Regions from separate parts of the Homo sapiens genome. Here region 1 is linked to region 2. The links come from fine-mapping of genetic effects on gene expression. A gene starts in region 2. The other region holds a variant in brackets. All regions are shown on one strand. Distances are from middle to middle.

Region 1 (5,482 bases), 24 kb after region 2:
ATTGGAATTTATGGGAATAGATTTATAGTTGCACAACTCAATGCTATGCAGGGATTTTCTCCAGCGTGATTCCTTTGGTGAAACAGTGGCCCCCACTTCCTACTGTCTGCCCAAACCCAAGCCAGCGAAAGTGTCCATTCACCCATCCATTCAGTCATTTACTCATTCATTCAACAAATATTTATTGAAGACTTACTGTAAAGGTCTTATAAAAGGTGATGGAACCTTGTCCATATCAGGGTTAGACATGGCTAAGTTCTGGGGAATTAGAACATATTATTAATCTCCATAACAAATACAGCTTTTGATGACACACAGAAACGAATGAAATCGGACACAAAGTCCCAATCAGTTTTTGGAAATAATCCACAAAATAAATGGAAGTTTCAGTTCCATAAACAACTAAATTGGATCCAGATATCAGATAATTCCACATTATATTGAAAAAGAAGAAATCGGGCCAGGCATCAGCATGTTGGGAGGCTGAGGTGGGCAGATCACTTGAGGTCAGGAGTTCAAGACCAGCCTGGCCAACATGGTGAAACCTTGTCTCTACTAAAAATACAAAAATCAGCCAGGTGTGCTGGCACATGCCTGTAATCCCAGCTACTCAGGAGGCTGAGGCATGAGAATTGCTTGAACCTGGATGGCAGAGGTTGCAGTGGGCCGATTGTGCCACTGCACATGGTTTGGCTGTGTCTCCACCCAAATCTCATCTTGAATTGTAACTGCAAGAATTCCCATGTGTCGTGGGAGGAACCTGGTGGGCAGTGATTGAATAATGGGGGCAGGTCTGTCCTGCACTGTTCTTGAGATGGTGAATGAGTCTCATGAAGTCTGGTGGCTTTAGAAATGGGAGTTTCCCTGCACAAATTCTCTCTTCGCTTGTTTGCCCCCATGTGAGATGTGACTTTCACATTCCACCATGATTGTGAGGCCTCTCCAGCCATGTGGAACTTTAAGTCCAATAAACCTCTTTCTTTTGTAAATTGCCCAGTCTCTGATATGTCTTTATCAGCAGCATAAAAATGGACTAATACCATCTTGTATACTGTTTGGTTAATAAATGCCCTTCTGGGAGACAGGCCTCACAACATCCACAAAAGCTGGGCTGCTTTCTGGGGCAGAAAGAGCTTAATGAAGATTAATATCTTTGTGTTGAGTGAACTCTGAGATGGCTCCCTGTGGTCCCTGACTCCTGGTGTTCTCACCCTTGTGTAATGTCCCCAATTGTGTGCAGGCAGGACCTTCGATTTGGTTTTAACAAACAGAGAAGAGCAAAGATGATAGGATGTCACCTCTGTAAATATAAGATGACGACTTGTGTCTTGGTGGCAGACTCTCTCCTTTATAAGCTTTCATAAAGCAAGTTGCTTGATTGGGGAGGCCCACAAGGCAAGAAACACAGGGTGCCTTCTGGGAAAAAACACCTAGGAATCAAGGCCCTTTGTTCAACTGCCTAAAAGCAATTGAGTCATGTCAACGACCAAAAAGTGAGCTTGGAAGCAGATTCTCCCCAGTTGGGCCTTTCGATAAGACTCAACCTTGCCTGACACCTTGAGTGTGGTCTTGTGAGAGACCATAAAATGGAGGAACCAGCTGAGCTGTGTCCAGATTCCTGACCTACAGAAACTGTGAGAAAACGTGTGTGTGTGTGTGTGTGTGTGTGTGTGTGTGTGTGTGTGTGAGCCAGAATCTTGCTTTGTCACCCAGGCTGGAATGCAGTGGCATGATCATAGCTCACTGCATCCTTGAACTCCTGGGCTCAAGTGATCCTCCTGCCTTAGCCTTCTGAGTAGCTAGGATGGCAGGCACACATCACCATGACCAGCTAATTTAACAACTTTTATTTTTTGGTAGAGATGGTATCTCACTATGTTGCTGAGGCTGGTCTCAAACTGCTGGGCTCAAGTGATCCTCATACCTCAGCCTCCCAAAGTATTGGGATTACAAGTGTAAGCCACTTCACCCTGCCGATGTGTGTTGTTTTAGGTGCCAAATTTATGCTCCTTTGTCACTCAGCAGTAAATAGCTAAGACAATCCTAAACAAGGTTTTTGAGATGGTAGAATAAAGACTCTCTGGGGTCCAATTAGTATTGGCCTGAGGCAGATTCCCTGAACAGAAAAGGAAGTGACCAGTAAATCTGAGTCATCTGGGATGAG[G/T]CCCCTTGTTACTAAACCCTCAGATTCCTTCCTGATGAAATGAGAAGTTTGGATAGCTCTCCAAGATCCCCTCCCCTCCCCTCTCCTCTCCTCCCCTCCCCTCCTCTCCTCTCCTCTGTATTTTATTTTCTTTTGAGACAGAGTCTCACACTGTTGCCTAGACTGGAGTGCAATGGCGAGATCTCAGTTCACTGCAACCTCCACCTCCTGGGTTCATGCAATTCTCCTGCCTCATCCTCTCGAGTAGCTGTGGTTATAGGCGCACACTACCACACTCGGCTAATTTTTTTTTTTTTTGTAGTTTTAGTAGAAATGGGGTTTCACTATGTTGGCCATACTGGTCTCAAATTCCTGACCTCGTGATCAGCCCTCCTCGGCCTCCCAAAGTGCTGGGATTACAGGCATGAGCCACCGCGCCCAGCCTTTGTTTGCTTTTCTCTCTTTTTTCTTTTTTGAGACGAACTCTTGCTCTGTCGCCCAGGCTGTGGAGTGCAGTGGAGCAACCTTGGCTCACTGCAACCTTTGCCTCCCAGGTTCAGGTGATTCTCCTCCCTCAGCCTCCCAAGTAGCTGGGACCACAGGAGGGGACACGCCACCGCACCAGGCTAATTTTTGTATTTTTAGTAGAGACGGAGTTTTGCCATGTTAGCCAGGCTGGTCTCAAACTTCTGACTTCAGGTGATCCACCCACCTTGGCCTCCCAAAGTGCTGGGATTACAGGCATGAGCCACCACGCCTGGCCACTTTCTTTCTTTTTATTTTTGTGTATTTGTTGTATGTTTTTAGGTTTGAGGTTACTGTAAGGGTTGCAAATATCTTGTAAACAATTATTTTAAATTGATGACAGCATTGATTGCATAAACAAAAACCAAACTACCAAACAAGCAAAAAGAAAACTAATAAAAATTCTACACTTTAACTTGCTCTCCCCACGTATTAACTTATTTATTTATTTTTTTTGAGACAGACTCTCACTCTGTCACCTAGGCTGGAGTGCAGTGGCACTATCTTAGCTCACTGCAACCTCTGTCCCCCAGGTTCAAGCAATTCTCCTGGCTCAGCCTCTCTAGTAGCTGGGATTAAGGTGTGTGCTAATTTTTAAATTATCATGCCTGGCTAATTTTTGTATTTTTAGTAGAGACAGGGTTTCACCATGTTGGCCAGGTTGGTCTTGAACACCTGACCTCAGGTGATCCACCTGCCTCCCCCTCCCAAAGTACTGGGATTACAGTAATGAGCCACCACATCTGGCCCACTGTTTCTATTGATAACTTATTGTACTGTCTATGAGTTGAAAAGTCATGGTAGTGATTATTTTTGATTGGTTCATCTTTTAGTCTTCTTCCTTAAGACATGAGTAGTTTACACACGACAATTATGGTGTTATAATATTTTCTGTTTTTCTGTGTACTTACCAGTGAGTTTTGCACCTTCATATGATTTCCTATTATTCATTGATGTCCTTTTCTTTCAGATTGAAGAACTTCCTTTAGCTTTTTTTTTTTTTTTTTTTTTTGTGTGTGAGATGGAGTCTCACTCTGTCACCCAGGATGCAGTGCAGTGGCACAATCTTGACTCACTGCAACCTCCATTTTCCGGGTTCAAGTGATTCTCATGTTCCAGTCTCCCGAGTACCCAGGATTACAGACGTACGCCAACACGCTCGACTAATTTTTATATTTTTAGTAGAGATGGTGTTTCGCCACGTTGACCGGGCTGATCTTGAACTCCTAGCCTCAAGTGACCCGCTTGCCTCAGTCTCCTAAAGTGCTGGAATTACAGGCATGAGCCACGACCCCGGCCCTTAGCATTTCTTGGAGGACAGGTCTAGAGTCGATGAAATCCCGCAGCATTTGTTTGTCAGGGAAGTTTTTCTCCTTCATGTTGGAAGGATATTTTTGCTAGATAAACTATTCTAGGTAAAAGTTTCTTTCCTCAGCACTTTAAATATGTCATACTATTCTCTCCTGGCCTTTCCACTGAAAAGTCTGTTGCCAGATGGATTGGAGCTCCATTGGATGTCATTTGTTTCTTTTCTCTTGCTGATTTTAGGATCCTTTCTTTATCCTTGATCTTTGGGAGTTTGATTATTAAATACCTTGAGGTAGTCTTCTTTGGGTTAAATCTGATTGGTGTTCAATAACCTTCTTGTACTTTAAAATTGATACCTTTCTCTAGGTTTGGGAAGTTCTCTGTTATTATTTTATTGAATAAACTTTCTACCCAATCTCTCTCTATTTTCTCTTTAAGAACAATTACTTGGATTTGCCCTTTTGAGGCTAATTTCTAGGTCTTATAGGCATGCTTTGTTGTTTTTTATTCTCTCTTTTTTTTGTCTTCTCTGACTGTGTATTTTCAAGTAGTCTATCTTCAAGCTCACTCATTCTTTCTTCTGCTGGATCAAGCCTGGAATCGAGGGCCTTAAGGGCCCTTTTGGTGCTCTTCCTCACTGCGGCTGAGCTGGCACCTAAGCTCATCACAAAGTGCTCTTTCCTCTTCCCTCTCTCTTTCTCAAGCAGAAGGACTCTCTCCTCGTAGCCACCAGAACTGTGAATGTGCTTCTGGTCACACCTGAAGCCAGCACGTCTCAGAGTCTCACTCAAGGCCAACTGCCTGTACTACTTGGTTACTGCTGCTGATTATTCAGGGTCCAAGGGCTCTTTAGTCAGCAAGTGATTAATTCTTCCAGGACTGAGCTCTTCTCTCCAGGTCAGTGGGTTCCCTTCTGGCCCAGGGTGTGTCTAGAAATGTCATCCAGGAGATAGGGCCTGGAATGGAGCCCTCAAGACTGTGACTAGTGTCCTATCCTACTGTGGCTGAGCTGGTATCCAAGTTGCAAGACAAAGTCCTCTTTAGTTTTCCTTCTCTTCTCCTATGCATCAGGAAGGGGTCTGTTTTGGAGCTGTGAGCTGTGCTGCCTGGGATTGTGGGAGGGGTGCTGCAAGCACTCCCTTAGGCACCCTGGGTGGTGTCTTATTAGCTCATGTGCCCCTCAATGTCCACTGGCTCTGAGCCCACCACAGCACCAGGACTTGCCTAGGATTTGCAGTCCTTGTGGCCTAAACATCTTTCAAGTTTATTTAGAGCCCCACTGCACTTTAGCCCATGGTGGTGAGGCTTGCCAAAACTCAAGTTCCAACCTCTGGGATGGGTTGGAATCTATCCTTCTGGCTAGGACTGGTCTACATGCTCCCTCCAGGGCCACTGGCTGAGTTCTGCCCTATGTCAGTAGCTCTGAATTCCAATTCAAGTTCCCGCGATTGCTGTGCTCTCCTTCTCCCAAGCACACAGATTCTCTCTTCATGTCACGCAGCCAGC
Region 2 (5,235 bases):
GTGGCAGTGAACCGAGATCGCACCACTGCACTCCAGCCTGAGCGATAGAGGGAGTGTGTCTCAAAAAAAAAAAAAAAAGAAAGAAAAAGAAATTAAGAAAGAAAAGAAAATCACTGACAGACATCCCAAGGCACCCCTGAAACGTGACCTCCCTTCAATTCACTTCCCAATCCAACCAAGAGCAACAGAAAATATCTGTTACCCCTAAAATGGGTGCAACTTCTCTTCCAACTCCCAGGTCCAGCAGCTGGGGAAAGAAAAGAACCTGCCTACAAAAAGAGCCTCCCCAGTCTGCTAAATCAGCACCACATGGGCAGTTTCAACCTGGAACCAAAGGGCCACCACCCCTCACCGCCTAACCAGTTGGAAACAGGGCTGTCCTGAGCCAACACCCAGGAGAGCTGTGCCAGGGCCGTGTCTGGCCTGCGTTGCCACCTGGGGAGCAAGGGACCTGTGCCTTTCCACCAGGGGGTACCCCCAGCTAGAGGACAAATGACCAAAGACGAAGGGAAGCCTCTGTTCTCCAGGAGACGTTTGACTCTGTCTTTGGGAAAGCTACACAGGGTGGGCGGCCCAGCCCCTTTCTCCAGGAGCTGGCGGGTTCTAAGTCACCAGCACCAGAGCCAACAAGAAACAGTTCTTGGCCAGGCACCGTGACTCACCGGGAGGCCGAGACAGGCGGATCACCTGAGGTCAGGAGGTCAAGATCTGCCTGGTCAACATGGTGAAACCCCATCTCTACTAAAAATACAAAAATTAGCTGGGCGTGGTGGCGGGCACCTGTAATCCCAGCTACTCGGGAGGCTGAGGCAGGAGAATAGCTTGAATTTGGGAGGCGGAAGTTGTAGTGAGCCGAGATCGCGCCACTGTGCTCCAGCCTGAGAGACAGAGCCAGCCAACGCCCTCTTAGGCCTCTTCGCCTTACGTTCCTGAACGTTTGGATTCAAAGAGAGTGCATCTCAGCTATCCTCTCCTCCGGCAGCAGGCAGTGGGAATGTTTTTCCAGGCTACAAAAAGGTGCCAGGTCTGCATTTGAACCCCACAGCGTCACTTCTCCAGTGGGTTTGGGGGGTCTCTCGTCCGTTAGGAGGAGGAGTGTGGGGCCTGCGCTAGGGTCCTTTTCTTTGCCAGCCTGCTGGCTTTCTCAGCGCCTGGGAAGGGGGTGACAGAGGCCCACCAGGAAGCCAAGTGCAATTCACTTCCACCTGGGTCGCCCACCCCAGCCTGCCTGCAACGCCCCACACCCAGCACCCACTGCTCCCCAGAGGCCAACTCCCCCCGGCCTCCAGGGCTACTAACCGAGGGGGAGGTGGCGCCCCAGGGACTCTGCCCGGCCTCCCTTTACTGGAGTCCAGGAGCAGGGTGCGCCCCCGGCCTTCTCCCCACCGGCATCCAATCGCCCATTCGCCTCTTGGTTTCGCTGTCTGGTTTCTCTTCCTGTTTATGGATTTAACACCGTGCGGCTTCCTCCCCAGCCCACCCAGTGCCAGATTCCTGTTCTTCAACAGGACCTGTCTTCTGGGGTCCCAGGAATTGCGTGGGATCTTGCGCAGAAAGTTGGCCAGGCAAATCCTTCGCAATGAGGGGGAAATAAACCGAAAATAGATGCCGGCAGATGCGATTATGTCGGCAGTTTGGCCCGGAGACACCGAGGCCCAGGCGCTGGGAGCGCGGTCCCAGGCAGCAGTCTCCGGACCCGGCCGAGCTCTTCCTCGCAGGCGCCTCCCTCGGCGGTCCTGGCCGCGTCCCCGCTCCGAGGGCCGGGGTCCGGCGCACAGCCCGGGGAGGGGAGCGGAGGGCAGAGGGCTGGCGGGCGGAGCTGTTTTCTGCTTTTCTCGCCGACGCTTCGGAGCGCGCGGACTCCCACCCCAGCCCGCCCGTCAGGGACAGTCCCGAGGGTCCCGGCTCCCCGCCGGCCCCCAGGGACGCCGCGGGGCCGCGCCTGGGCCCGACTGAGGGCGCAGAGGAACCCGTCTCGGCGGCCGGGTAGCACCGTCCCCGCCAAGGTCACTTACGCTGCGGTGGCCCCGGGTCCCCAGCACTCACCCAGCGCTGCAGCCGAGAGCCTGCAGCCCAGCCTGCGCGCAGCGGAGCGGTTGGCGTTGCCGGAGCGGTTGCCGGAGCCCTGCAGCCGCCGTAGCCTGGGCCAGCCCCGGCCCTAAGTACCCTCCCGGCCCCGCCCCACGTGACCACCGCGCAGCCCCGCCCGGGCCCTCCCGCCGCCCGCGCACGGTGCTTCCCAGCCCCCACCCCCTCCCGCCACCTTCCGCCGCCCGCGCTCCCCGCTTCCCGGCCCCGCACACCCCCCGCCCCCTTCCGCTCGGGGTCCGGGGCCACCGCCGGGGGCGGGCGGGGGCCTGAGCGCGCGGGCTGGGGAAGAAGGGCTTGGAGCCCTGCGGGCCCTGGGTGGCGAAACGCTGCGAATTGGGGCCAGGGGATGGGGAAAAAGCCCCTAAAGGTGGTCCCAAGGCCCCCACCCCGCCTAGAAAAGTCCCCCCGCCTCGCGGGACCGCCTCCGCCAGAACCCGCGCCTGGGATCCCTGCCTGCCGAGTTGGCGGGGGTGGGGTGGTGGAGAGGGCGCCGTCGCTTATTTCATTCATTCAGAAGCCGCTGCAGAGGCTGGGGGTGGCGAGGCTGTGGACCCCACAGAACAGCCTTTAGAAGGGCCACTTTGTTGTTCAGAGAACGTACCCACAAAACACTACAGCTACGTACAAATAGAAAAGAGTGGCTGTCACTGCGAAGGAACCTAGGAGCTGCGTCAGGATTTCTAAGAGGAGAAGGACCTTGGGGGCGGAAATCGGTTTGGCACAGGAGTACCCGGAGACCTGCTCCGAGAGGACGGACAAAGTGCACATTTACTTGGGGTTTATTACCGGGAGGCCCTGGAAGGGAGATGCAGGGGTTGGCTCAAGACTCACCCTCCTCCAGACACTCCCCAAACAGCTTTAATCCTTAAGACAAACCTGCAAAGCAGGCATGACCCCAGTTGTATTCAAGAGGCTCAGAGGGGCTGGGTTCGGTGGCTCACGCCTGTAATCCCAGCATTTTGGGAGGCCGAGGCCGGTGAGTCACCTGAGGTCGGGAGTTCGAGACCATCCTGACCAACATGGAGAAACCCCGTCTCTACTAAAAATACAAAACTAGCCGGGCGTGGTGGCGCGTGTCAGTAATCCCAGCTACTCGGGAGACTGAAGCAGGAGAATCGCTTGAACCCGGGAGGCGGAGGTTGCGGTGACCAGAGATCGCACTATTGCACTCCAGCCTAGGCAACAAGAGTGAAACTCTGTATTAAAAAAAAAAAAAAGGCTCAGAAGAATCGTATTTTATCCAGGCTGTGGCGACAGTAAGAAGGCAGTAGCCGGGTGCAGTGGCTCACGCCTGTAATCCCAGCACTTTGGGAGGCCGAGGCGGGCGGATCACGAGGTCAGGAGATCAAGATTATCCTGGCTAACACGGTGAAACCCCGTCTCTAGTAAAAATACAAAAAATTAGCCGGGCGTGGTGGCGGGCGCCTGTAGTCCCAGCTACTCGGGAGGCGGAGGCAGGAGAATGGCGTGAACCCGTGAGCTGAGATCGTGCCACTGCACTCCAGCCTGGGCGAAAAGCGAGACTCCGCCTCAAAAAAAAAAAAAAAAAAAAAAAAAAAGGCAGTAGGACTGCATGGGACCTGGTTCCCTGCAGCCTGGTCGTCAGCTGTCACACAGCCCTGAGCCTGTCTTCAGAGACATGCCTGTACTCCCGCCTGGTTAGTAACAAACTAAGGATAGGAGTGGAAGGAAAAAATAATCTCTGGAGCCCAAACATGGTCACTAAGCCCCCAGCAGAGTGGGATACCCGAGGAACTGAGGACCAGGAGGCTGGAGGTCAAGGTGGTCCCAACTGCCTGCTCACCCTAGTCATATCCTGACAGCCATGGACTCTGGACTCCAAATCATTTCAGACCTCTATAAGGAGCTCATAAGATGGCCAAAATGGGGAGGACACAGCCAGAACCAGGATAACTCTCCCCTCTCTCATCCTTAGAGTGTGACAGAAGGTATGCAGAGCAGAGTGCTTGACATGCGTTATGGCTATTTGATGGAATTTTCCATCAGTGTCATTATAGAAATCACTTTTGAGAGGTAAAAATCACTTTTGAAACAAAAGAAACAGGCTAGGCGCGGTGGTTCACCACTGTAATCCTAGCACTTTGGGAGGCTGAGGCAGGCAGATCACCTGAGGTCGGGAGTTCCAGACCAGCCTGGCCCAAATGGTGAAACCCAGTCTCTACTAAAAATACAAAAATTAGCTGGGCGTGGTGGTTCACGCGCCTGTAATCCCAGCTACTTGAGAGGCTGAGGCAGGAGAATCGCTTGAGCCCGGGAGGTGGAGGTTGCGGTGAGCCAAAATCACGCCATTGCACTCCAACCCGGGCAAGATTCCATCTCAAAAGAAAAGAAAAGAAAAAAAGAAATAGGCCAGGCGCAGTGGCTCACGCCTGTAATCCCAGCACTTTGGGAGGCCAAGGCAGGCGGATCACGACGTTGGAAGTTCAAGACCAGCCTGGCCAACATGGTGAAACCCCGTCTCTACTAAAAATACAAAAATTAGCTGGGTGTGGCATTGCGGGCCTGTAATCCCAGCTACTCGAGCGCTGAGGCAGGAGGATCCCTTGAACCAGGGAGTCAGAGGTTGTAGTGAGCCGAGATCACGCCATTGCACTCCAACATGGGCAAGACTCCTCAAAAGACAAGAAAAGAAATATATTACTACCAGAGTAGAATTCGTCCCTTCCTGGAACATCCAGGAAAGCTTCATGGAGAAAGGAACATACAGCATATTTACTTGTATATGTTCCTTCCTGCCCTCACTGGATCTTAAGCCCCACCCAGGCAAGCATTTTTACCTGCGGTGTTCCCCTGCTTCATCCCAGCTCATTGCAGGGTGTCTGGCCCATAGCAGAGGATAGAGAAATGTGAGTTGAGTGGATGCATAATGAATGAAGTAGGCCTTGAAGTTGAGGAGAATTTTGGCTTAACCTGCTAGATTTGGGGGTCAGGGTTCAGGGCCTGGGGAACAGCTCTCAGAACTTACAGAGAGGCCTTGACTCACGTGTGTAAAAGCTGTTTGCTTGTTGAACATCCGTAAAAGAGGCCTAAGTTAACACCTGAAAGAGGTGAAAACATACGTCCTCACAAAAATCCGCCGGGCACAGTGGGCTCACGCCTGTAATCCCAGCACTTTGGGAGGCA

Evidence for each region.
Region 1: its variant is fine-mapped to the expression of CTSB in whole blood (TOPMed, PIP above 0.99).

The regions. Positions count from the first base shown.
Region 1 is chr8:11,889,598-11,895,079 of GRCh38, forward strand. No RefSeq gene overlaps it. Among named protein-coding and RNA genes, the nearest start is that of CTSB, 24 kb to the left of the region's middle. RefSeq lists a silencer at 1,528-1,711. The variant G/T (reference allele first, on the strand shown) is at 2,165.
Region 2 is chr8:11,865,955-11,871,189 of GRCh38, forward strand. It overlaps CTSB (cathepsin B), which reads right to left and starts at 2,133. Exons shown (of 10, transcript NM_001908.5): 1 at 2,047-2,133. RefSeq lists an enhancer at 1,397-1,606 and silencers at 1,697-2,026, 2,167-2,286.